Regions from separate parts of the Homo sapiens genome. Here region 1 is linked to region 2. The links come from fine-mapping of genetic effects on gene expression. A gene starts in region 2. The other region holds a variant in brackets. All regions are shown on one strand. Distances are between the middles of the regions.

The links. PIP is the estimated chance that this variant, and not a neighbour inherited with it, causes the effect.
Region 1: its variant is the best candidate, but not a certain one, in a credible set for the expression of PRX in Th2 cells (Schmiedel 2018, PIP 0.51).

The regions. Positions count from the first base shown.
Region 1 is chr19:40,367,806-40,373,173 of GRCh38, forward strand. It overlaps PLD3 (phospholipase D family member 3), which reads left to right. Exons shown (of 13, transcript NM_012268.4): 6 at 1-74; 7 at 2,103-2,223; 8 at 2,305-2,432; 9 at 3,868-4,068. MIR6796 (microRNA 6796) reads left to right here and starts at 2,041; the gene lies at 2,041-2,102. RefSeq lists a silencer at 141-306 and an enhancer at 3,977-4,271. The variant C/T (reference allele first, on the strand shown) is at 3,152.
Region 2 is chr19:40,410,655-40,416,022 of GRCh38, forward strand. PRX (periaxin) reads right to left here and starts at 2,724. Exons shown (of 7, transcript NM_181882.3): 1 at 2,684-2,724. RefSeq lists enhancers at 1-17, 3,534-4,182.

The DNA of each region.
Region 1 (5,368 bases), 43 kb before region 2:
GCCTGGACATCGCCTCCTTCTACTGGACCCTCACCAACAATGACACCCACACGCAGGAGCCCTCTGCCCAGCAGGTACCTGCAACCTTGGCCCTGGCCGGCAGCAGGGGCAGGGGGTGGGAGGCAGCGGGGGCTGTGGGGAATGAAGGGGTTTCTCCTGCAGCCCAGGAGACAGAGGGGTGTGTCTCACACAGCAGATTGGACACAGGTGTTTGCAAGCAGCTGTCGTCACGTGGCTCTCTGGACTGGGGGCGTTTGTCACGGTCATCTGTAGGCCTCTGAATGTCAGGGTGCGGGTTTGGTTACAAGGGATTATTAGGCTGGCAGATGTCACTCACCCACAAGCTGTCCTGACCCAGTCACACAAAGAAAGGGAAGAGTGGAGTAATTAACAGCCCAGCCTCAAGACAGGGGCCACCTCCCAGCTGTGTGACCCCAGGCAGGCCACCTCTTCTCTCCAGCTTCAGTTTCTTTATCTGTAAAATGGGGCCAATTTATAGCACCTGCTTCTTAGGGCTCTTGTGAGGATGAAATGGACTAATCCATGCAAATTTTAGCACAGTGCCTGGCACAGAGTCAGCCTTTGTGAGTCTGCTGTTACTATATATCCTGGTATGGTCTGCAGACAAACTTAAAGAACATAAAAGCTTCACAATTTGAAAAGGAACAGCCTACATGGATAACCTCTTCCATTGAAAAACCATGAATTTGTTCCTTCTGTTTTCTTCTCCCTACTGGCTCTTTTTGTGAGAAGTTGTCTTAAAACTTAACTAAAATTACAAGGCTCCTTAAGAACTGCCTGAAAAAAATAATTATGGCCAAGTGTGGTGATTCACACCTGTAATCCCAGCACTTTGGGAGGCCTAGACAGGAGGATCACTGGAGCCCAAGAGTTCGAGACTAGCCTGAGCAACATAGTGAGACCCGCCCCCCACCTCCCCTCAACCATCTCTACTAAAAATAAAAAAAAATTAGGAGGGTGTTGTGGTGCATGCCTGCAGTCTCAGATACTCAGGAGATGGAAGGAGGAGGATGGCTTGAGCCCAGGAGTTGGAGGCTGCAGCGAGCCGTGATCATGCCACTACACTCCAGCCCAGGCAACATAGCAAGACCCTGTCTCAAAAAAAAGAAAAAGAAAAAGTAATAATAATAATTACAAAAGTTAAAAACCAAAGCCAGGCATAGTGGTACACACCTGTGGTCCCAGCTACTTGGGAGGCTGAAGCAGGAGAATGACTTGAGCCTAGGAATTGGAGGCTGCAGTGAGCTGTGATCATGCCACTGCACTCTAGCCTGGGCAACATAGTGAAACCCTGTCTCTAAAAAAAAATTTTTTTATGTTAAAAAACCGTATGAGCTCCCACTCCCTGCTGGCTCCCTCTAAAGTGGTTTAAAACACAGATGTAGGAGGCAGATGGTCTGGGTTCAAATCCTGCTCCATAGCTGGATGTGGTGGTGCACTCCTGAGGTACTAGCTACTTGGGAGACTGAGGCAGGCGGAATGCTTGAGCCCAGGGATTGAAGATCAGCCTGGGCAACATAGCAAGTCCCTGTCTCAACAAACAAACAAACAAAAAAACAAAAACAAAATCCCACTCCACTACTGAGTTCTCTGTGGGGATTATAATTAAACCAGCCTCACTGGGTTGTGAGAATTCAGTGAGTTCGCTGAGAAGAGGCCTAGAACAGGGCCTGGCACACAGTAGGTTCCAGGGCATCCTTGACTGTTGCTGTTGTTGGCATCATCGTGCCTCACCCGATACCTTCCAGGACCCCCTGCCTGAGCCTCGCCCCCACCATACTGGGAGATGCCTGGAGGCCCTGCCTTGATGCTGAATTTTGAGAAAGTCCCTGGAGGGGCAGGAGGGGTCAGGAGGACTTGGAGGGGGATCACAGGGCAACTAATTATTAAAGCAGATAAAGATGTTTAAAACAGATAAGGAAGTCTTTTAATATTTTAATCTGTAAAGTCTTTAATCTATGCAGGCTAATGTAAAGTCTGTTTACTCCTAATCATGTCTCAAAATAACTCCACCGGGCATTACCTTGTGGGGTTGGAGAGCTGGCTGGTCCAGCCCCTCAGAAGCTCTCCCCTCCCCGCAGGGTGAGGAGGTCCTCCGGCAGCTGCAGACCCTGGCACCAAAGGGCGTGAACGTCCGCATCGCTGTGAGCAAGCCCAGCGGGCCCCAGCCACAGGCGGACCTGCAGGCTCTGCTGCAGAGCGGTGAGCTGGGGCCCAACTGGGGCTGGTCTGGGCCTGGGGGTACCCAGCCTGGCCCCTGATCTCTGCCCCTGCTGGTCACAGGTGCCCAGGTCCGCATGGTGGACATGCAGAAGCTGACCCATGGCGTCCTGCATACCAAGTTCTGGGTGGTGGACCAGACCCACTTCTACCTGGGCAGTGCCAACATGGACTGGCGTTCACTGACCCAGGTCTGTCTGCACCCTGTCTACCTTCCTTCCAGGCCACTCCCTGCCCCACAGGGCACCCAGCCTCCGACTGCATCCCTCACTCAATCCAGAGTCCTCTCCACCCATTCTCTGTAATGGCTTCCTTCTTGCCTCCTACCAGGCCTCCCTAATCCAAGCCATGCACGGTGGCTCACACCTATAATCTCAACACTTTGGGAGGCCAAGGTGGGAGGATTGCTTGAGCCCAGGAGTTGGAGACCAGCCTGGGCAACATAGTGAGACCCCATCTCTACCAAAAAAAAAAAAATAAGCCCGGTGTGGTGGCACACACCTCTGGTCCCAGCTCCTTGGGAGACTGAGGTGGGAGGATCACTTGAGCCCAGGAGTTTGAGGCTACAGTGGGTTGTATTCATGCCACTGCACTCCAGCCTGAGTGACAGAGTGAGACCCTGTTACAAAACAAAGAATCCCTAAATGGAGCCCTCTACTGCCCTCCCCCTGCTCCTGGAAGCCTGGGGCTCCCTCTGATCCCCAATTGCAGCTACCAGCCCCTCTACATGGCATTCAAGAACCTGCGCACCCATTTGATCTTCATTGTACATCTCTGTGTGCCTGCTCTAAGTCCAGCCCTATCCTGGGTAATGTTGGGAACATGGTGGTAACAGATGGACCTCATGGAACTCCCAGCCCAATGCAGACTGGCCTGTCACCTGACAGTGACAGCCCAGAGGGGTCAGGGC[C/T]GGGGTTGGGGAGACACAGGCAGAGGGTCAGGGCCAGGATGGAGGGAACAGAGGGCTGTGGAAGCTCAGAGACCCCAACCTGGGGCATTGGAGGGTTTCCCAAAGGAGGTATAACTAATCTGATCCCTGAAGGATAGGGAGGAATTAGCGCAAGATGGAACAGGAAACAGCTTGGGCAATGAGGTGAAGATAAGACAGGACAATAACTCATGAATTCATTTCCTCAACAGATAGTTCCCCTAACCTTTAATCTCAGCAATTATGCAGGGAGATGCTGTAGATATAGCTGTGACTGAGACATCCCTAGTGCCTGTCCTCCCAGCCCAATGGGAAGACCAGTTTGTCACCAGAAAGAATGAGGAGGGAATCCCAAGGGACTGTGAGAGCCCAGAGGAATGCCTGGTGCAGGCTGGGTAGTCATGGGAGGCTTCCTGAAGGAGGCAACATGTCAGCCTAGACCTAAGAATGAGTAGAAGCTAGCTCAGTGGAGGGTAGAAGCAACAGCAGATTGCAAACGTTCAGGAAACCTGGAGCTTTGGAATAACTGATTTTCATCAAAACTTAAGTTGATAATCATTCTAGGACTTTAGCTATTGGAGCTGGGGTGGAGGGGGTACTGTGGGACAGGGGGAAAGACAGAGACCAGACTGGGGAGTGTCCCTGTCATCTGTGAGCACTAGGCCGCTATCGCTGAGCTCAGCACTGCCCTCCTACAGGTCAAGGAGCTGGGCGTGGTCATGTACAACTGCAGCTGCCTGGCTCGAGACCTGACCAAGATCTTTGAGGCCTACTGGTTCCTGGGCCAGGCAGGCAGCTCCATCCCATCAACTTGGCCCCGGTTCTATGACACCCGCTACAACCAAGAGACACCAATGGAGATCTGCCTCAATGGAACCCCTGCTCTGGCCTACCTGGCGGTGAGTCTGGGGCAAGTGGGGCCTGTCATGTCCCAGCCCCATGCCGTCACTCACAGCCTCCATCTGTCCCTGTTTGGTGATGACAGGGAGGGCGTATCCTGACCATCAGTTCTCACCCCAGCTCATTCTGCTTGGTCAGGGGCCTGGAGTAGTTCCCAACATCCCTCGGCCTCTATTTCAGTTAGAAAATGGGTATTGTTTCCAACCTGTTAGGGCTGCTGGGAGAGGTACCCTGGGTTCATGCACACCAAACCTTTGGTGCTCTATATCATCCAGTATAGCCACAGGTGGCTCTTTCAGTTTAAGTTAATTAAATGCAATTAACAATTCAGGCCAAGTGGGGTGGCTTATGCCTGTAATCCCAATACTTTGGGAGGTTGAGGTGACAGGATCACTTGAGGCCAGGAGTTTGAGACCAGCCTGGACAACATAGCAAGACTCCATCTTTACAAACAAACAAACAAACAAACAAAACTAGCTGGGTTGGGTTGTGCATGCATGTAGTCACAGCTACGCAGGAGGCTGAGGCAGGGGGATCACTTGAGCCCAGGAAATCTAGGCTGCAGTGAGCCATGATCACACCACTGTACTCCAGCCTGGGTGACAGCCTGTTTCAAAAAAAAATTGTTTCAAGCCAGGCATGGTTTCTCATCCCTGTAATCCCAGCACTTTGGGAGGCCAAGGCCAAGATGGGAGGATCACTTGAGGCCAGGAGTTCATGACCAGCCTGGGCAACATAGGGAGACATCATTTCTTTCTATTTTTTTTTTTTTTTTGGTCTTATTATTTATTGTTCTAGATAGGATACCCAAGAACTAGGGAGACACCATTTCTACAAAAACATAATATTAATTAAAATTAGCCGGGTGTGGTTGTGTGCACCTGTAGTCCCTGGGGAGGCTAAGACAGGGGGATCACTTGAGCCCAGGAGTTTGAGGCTGCGTGAGCTGATTGTACCACTGCACTCCAGCCTGGGCAAGAGGCTGTTGCCCTGTCTCCAAAAAAAGAAAAAATTCAGTTCCTCATGCAGTAGCCACATTTCATATGCTCAGTAGCACCTGTAGCAAGTGACCACCATATTGGACATTTCCATCACTGTGACAGGCTCTGTTGGACAACACTGGCTCTCGCCATGGCAGATACTGATCACTCTGGACAAGGCACTGATGTTTCTAGCTCTTGATAGTTTCACTAGTTGAGGCAGGCAACCCAGGTCTCCCTAGGTCCCCCTGAGCAAGTTACCTGTCCAAGCCCAGAGTCATCGTGGAAGGCACAACCCTAAGGCGTGGACGTAGGGAAG
Region 2 (5,368 bases):
GAGGTCAGGGGTTCGAGACCAGTCTGGCCAATATGGTGAAACCCCGTTTCTACTAAAAATACTAAAATTAGCCAGGCGTGGCAGCGCGCGCCTGTAATCCCAGCTACTCGGGAGGCTGAGGCAGGAGAATCGCTTCAGCCTGGGAAGCGGAGGTTGTGGTGAGCTGAGAATGCACCACTGCACTCCAGCCTGTGCGATAGAGCGAGACTCCATCTCAAAAAAATAAAAATAAAAATAAAAAAAGCTCCAGCGCTTTAGCTGGACAATCATAATAACAACTGATGGGTATTGAGTGGTTAGTATTAATATTAGCTGGTCCCTGCACTAAGACCTTGTCTGCCATGTCTGGGGCATTTCCTCTGAATTGGGCCCTGTGCTAGCACCCACAGGCCTCAAAATCACCCTAGATGTTGTGGCTGTTATGGGGTGGAAACTGAGGCTCACAGAGGGGTCACCCAGCCAGAAAGGGGCAGAGCTAGGACCCGTGCCTGCCCTTCACCCCTGCTTCACCTTAATTTGCATTGGTGGCTCTGCGCACTGGGGCAGGAGCTGGGTTGGGCAGGAGGGGGCCAACGGTGCTAGAAACACACCCAGGCCAGGTGCCGGGCCTGGACCGGGCAGGCGCTTTACATACTTGACCTTGTGGGACCCCATTTAACTGATGAGTCAATGAGAGTTAAGAGACCGGTGATCACAGTGACAGAGTCGAGACTTGAGCCCAGGTGTGAAAGCGAACTCAGTTCCCTTACCCAGGACTGATACACAGCACAGAGTCCTGAGCTGGGGACACGAGAAGCCTGAACCTTGTAGGTGGTAGTAGAGGGGGTCTCCTGGGTCATCAGCTCTCTGTCCCAGGCCCGTGGCTGTGAGGGTCATGCCCGGAGCCTGGCACAGGAAGTTCAGGCGGGGCAGGGACAAGAGAGAGTGCCCTCCTTCTTCGTCCCTGCCTGGACAGGCACCCAGCCCAGGTTATATTTAGCCCAACTGTGCTCTTCCTGAGCCACGTACCCAGCCCCTGGGGTAAGGTGGGGGCAGCTTCGGAAGGAAACCCACAGAGAGGACTCTGTGTTCCCAGCTCTGCCTATCCCACTAGGCAGGGGAAAGAGGGGTGGGGAGGCTCCTGGGGAGGGTCCCTGCCTTGTGTTAGAGGCAGATCCACTGGGACCAGGCAGACACTCCAGATGCCAGCAGCCTATTTCTTGGGTAGTTACTGTGGCATGACCCTGGCATATGCCAGAACTTTCAGAATCCCCAGGGTCCCCATTTCTTGAGCACCTACTGTGTGCTAAGATCCTTCCTGTCTTGGCTCCTTAAATCTTTGTAACATCTCCCTGGAGTGGGTACAACTGAGATATCCATTTCAGATGCGACTTATGCCCTTCAGAGCAGCTGGGAGCGAGGGGTTGTCATTCGGAGGCTGCTGAGGGATCGGCTGAGGGCATTGCCCTTCTGGCCCTCTTTCCCTGGTGACTGCCACCAACTTCACTTGGGAACCCTGCCTGCTCAGAGCCTCAGCTTTCCCCCGCCACCAGCGTGATCTCTCATAGCAATGGGGGTCAGGGGTTGGGCTGACTCATCCAGACCTCTAAACATTATCTGAGGCCACCTAGGGGGTCAGGGGGAGTTAAGGCAGTGGCCTCTGGCTGCCTCGGTTAGTCCCTGCTCCAGCACTTCCCAGGTGTGAGGACTTGGGCAAGATCCTTCATCTCTGGGGCCTCAGTTTCTCCATCTGTAAAATGGAGCCAATAAGAAAGGCTTTGAAGATTTGTGAGAGAACAGCAGGTGCTTAGAATATCCCTCCTGTATAGTAAATGCTTGATTAATATAAACTCGTCTCTGACAGCAACAGGGAGAGTATGGAGGGAGGGAGCTGTGCTTCTCACAGTGTTGCACATCCAACCTTTGCTCCTCAGTGGCCCCCACTTTCTCTGCTACCAAAGGGGAGCTTTGGCTGAGAGACAAAACCCAGCTCAGGCACCAGCCTCCCAACAGGATCCATGCTGCCTCCCTAGCACCCTACTCCAGGGACCCACCCCAGGCCTCCTGCCCCAGCTCTGGTGTTTGTTAGTTTGTTTTTTGGAGACAGGGTCTCCCTCTGTCACTGAGACTGGAGTGCAGAGGTGTGATCACGGCTCACTGCAGCCCCAACCTCCTGGGCCCAACCCAATCTCCCATCTCAGCCTCCAGAGTAGCTGGAACCACAGGCATGCACCACCATGCCCAGCTAATTAAAAAAAATTTTTTTTTGTTTTGTAGAGATGGGGGCCTCTCTATGTGGCCCAGGCTGGTCTCGAACTCCTGGGCTTAAGCAGTCCTGCCGCCTCAGCCTCCCAAAGTGCTGGGATTATAGGCATGAGCCACCATGCCTGGCTGCCCTAGCTCTTTAAAAGCAGCAACTCATTTACTCGGCACCAGCCCTGTGAGGTGGCCTCCAGACATCAGCCCATTTTAGAGATGGGGAAACAGAGGCACAAAGGATGAAGTATCTTGCCCAAGGCTGCACAGCCAGAAAGGAGAGGAAAGGGGATTTGAACCACCAGCTCCAAAGTCTATACCTTTAACACCTACACCACACGGCTTCCTGAGCCCCCAGGCCCCCTCCCAGCACCTCCCGGGACCCTGAACCTCATTCCCACAGTGTCTCAGCCTGGCCAGGGAAGGGACCGGCCGGCTGATCTCTTACCGCTGAGCCTCCAGACACCTCGAGAGCTCCTGGTCCCGTCTGTCAGCCCTAGCCCTAGGCTGGGGGGGAAAAGGAATGGGGAGGGGGGAGGAGAGAGAGACCCCAGCCATTGGCTGCGGGGGTGTGACGTCACCAGAGGGTGGGTGGTGGAGAAACAAACATCCCCCTCCTCCAGCTACATCTATCCCCAAGGGGTGGGGGCCACGGGACAGCCACCAGCCGCCTCTCTCTTGCCTGGGCCGAGATCTCTGCCATGAGCTCAGCTTCAAGGATTTGCACGTTGGCTTCCTCGACTTGGAGAATCAGGACCCCACCCCAGCCCCACTGTTTCCTGGCTCCAGGACCCGGGCCTGGCCAACTGCCTCTACTGTAAACTCCTTTCACTCCCTCTCCCTGTCAACTTGGGTTCAAATCGCAGCGCGACCACTTCCTCGCTGGGTGACCTGCTGCCAGTCACAGCTTCTCTTTGCGGATAGTAAGAGTACCCACCTTATGGGGCTGTGGTGAAGATTAAACGAGTTAAAAGAGACTGAAAATGTAAGACAATGCCGGGCACATAATGAGGGTTACTAATAAGTATTTGGTATTATTTTTCACACAAATTAGGTGGCTGGCTCATCTTGCTGGGGGGTTTTGGCCCCTTTTCAGTAAGGCTGGGCACAGGGGACCCCCAGTTCTCTGTCTAATGGAGTTACTGTTTAGGGGGACACCTATCACATACTAAGTACCATGCTCAGTGCTGAAGCCCTGCTTTTGAATCAAGGGTGTAAAATGGGCTCCTTATGCTCCCCACCCTTTTTTTTGAGACAAGGTCTCACTCTGTTGCCCAGGCTGGAGTGCAGTGGTGTGATCATGGCTCACTGCAGCCTCCACCTCCTGGGCTCAAGCAATCCTCCCGACTGAGCCCCCTCAAATAGCTGGGACCACAGGTATGCATCATCATGCCCAGCTAATTTTTGTATTTTTTGTAATGGCAAAGTTTCACCATGTTGCCCAGGCTGGTCTCGAACTCCTGGGCTCAAGCGATCTTCCCACTTCGGCCTCCCAAAGTTCTGGGATTACAGGCGTGAGCCACCGCGTCCAGCTATGCCCAATTTATAGCTATGTGGCCAGGAGGTGGTGAAGCTGAGGTCCAACCCCTGTTCTCCTGGACCACAAAAACCCTGCTACACTCTTCTGCCCCTTCCACTTTGCAGACCAGAAGGCTCAGAGAAGGTAAGTGACTCTCCCAATATCACCATAGCAGGTCATTGGCAGGGGTCCAGAGTTGAACCCAGACCTGCCCGACTCCCAAGCCAAAGCTACCAGGCCTCACCCCCAACCCCTGGACCCTGGTCCAGCCCCCAGCCTGCCCTGACTCACCAGACCCCGGGGGGCGGCACAGGGAGCACAGGTACCCCCACATGCCACTTGAACCCACCCGGCTGCTGCCTCGGAAGCTCGTCGCTCTCTGAACCCAGGCCCCAGGCCTGGGCTGGGCTGAGGCTGGGGGATTACCCCCAAAGCGCATGTCAGCAGCTTCTGCCCCATTGTCCAGCCAGGCACAGACACCAAGCCCTGGCCTCTGTCGGCACCCTCGCCCCTCACACCAGCCTGGGTGGCCCCTCTGCAGACCTGTCCCCCATCTCACACCAGAGGGTTGGGGCCTACTTCAGAGGGCGTGGGGGACCAGGCCAGGATGGCAGGATCCCGGAATGCTGGGGGCCTCCCTCCCTTCTCTCTGAAATGCCCCCTGCCCACTCTCAGCCACCGGGGAAGGCAGGAATGTGCTGAGCTCTGGGAAATGCCTTCCAGGCCTGGCAGCAACCAAGCATTGGGGTGTGGCCAGAAGCCAGCCAGAGCCCTCCTCCCAGGAGGGGTAGAAGGGATGGTATGGTCGGGGCTCCCGATGGGCCTGAGGAGACCCTCACTTCATTGCAGTCTCTCTCCTTCATTGATTCACGCAAACATTCTTTTGTTCCTATATTCATTCAACAAACACTCACAAGCCCTGTTTAGTGGTAGGTCTTTTGCTGGGCACAGGGGACATCAACAGATCTAACTCCACCCCAGGGAGGAGGCGGCAAACTCAGGAAAGGATCCTGCAGGAGGTGATATCGGCAGTCAAACTGAATTAGCCAGGCGTGGTGGCGGGCACCTGTGATCCCAGCTACTCGGGAGGCTGAGCAGGAGAATTGCTTAAACCCAGGAGGCAGAGGTTACAGTGAGGCAAGATTGCGCCATTGCACTCCAGCCTGGGTGACAGAGCGAGACTCTGTCTCAAAAAGAAAATAATAATAAATAATAAAAGGAAGTCAAAATGGAAGATTGAGGAGGAGGGAGCTAAGGAAAAAAGGAGGGAAGGGGGTTCCAGGCAGAGGGACAAATGTGGGCAAAGGACCAGAGGTGAGAAATGGAGCGGGTCTTCATTCACCATCAGCAAACATTCAGTGAGCACCTGGTCTTCTGTCCAGTCCCAGGCTGGATGGTGCTGGGGACACAGTGTGACTGGGACAGCTCAGGCCTGCATCCACACCATTCACAGTCCAGCAGGGAACAAACCCAGAAAGAGGAGGGTTGTGATGGGGCAATCATAGGCAGAGAGGTCAAAGCCTTGATGGGGAAGTCCAGAAAAGGTGGCTGCCCCAGCCTAGGAAGAGAAATCAAGGAGGGCTTCCTGGAGGAAGTGGCATTTGAGCTTGCACC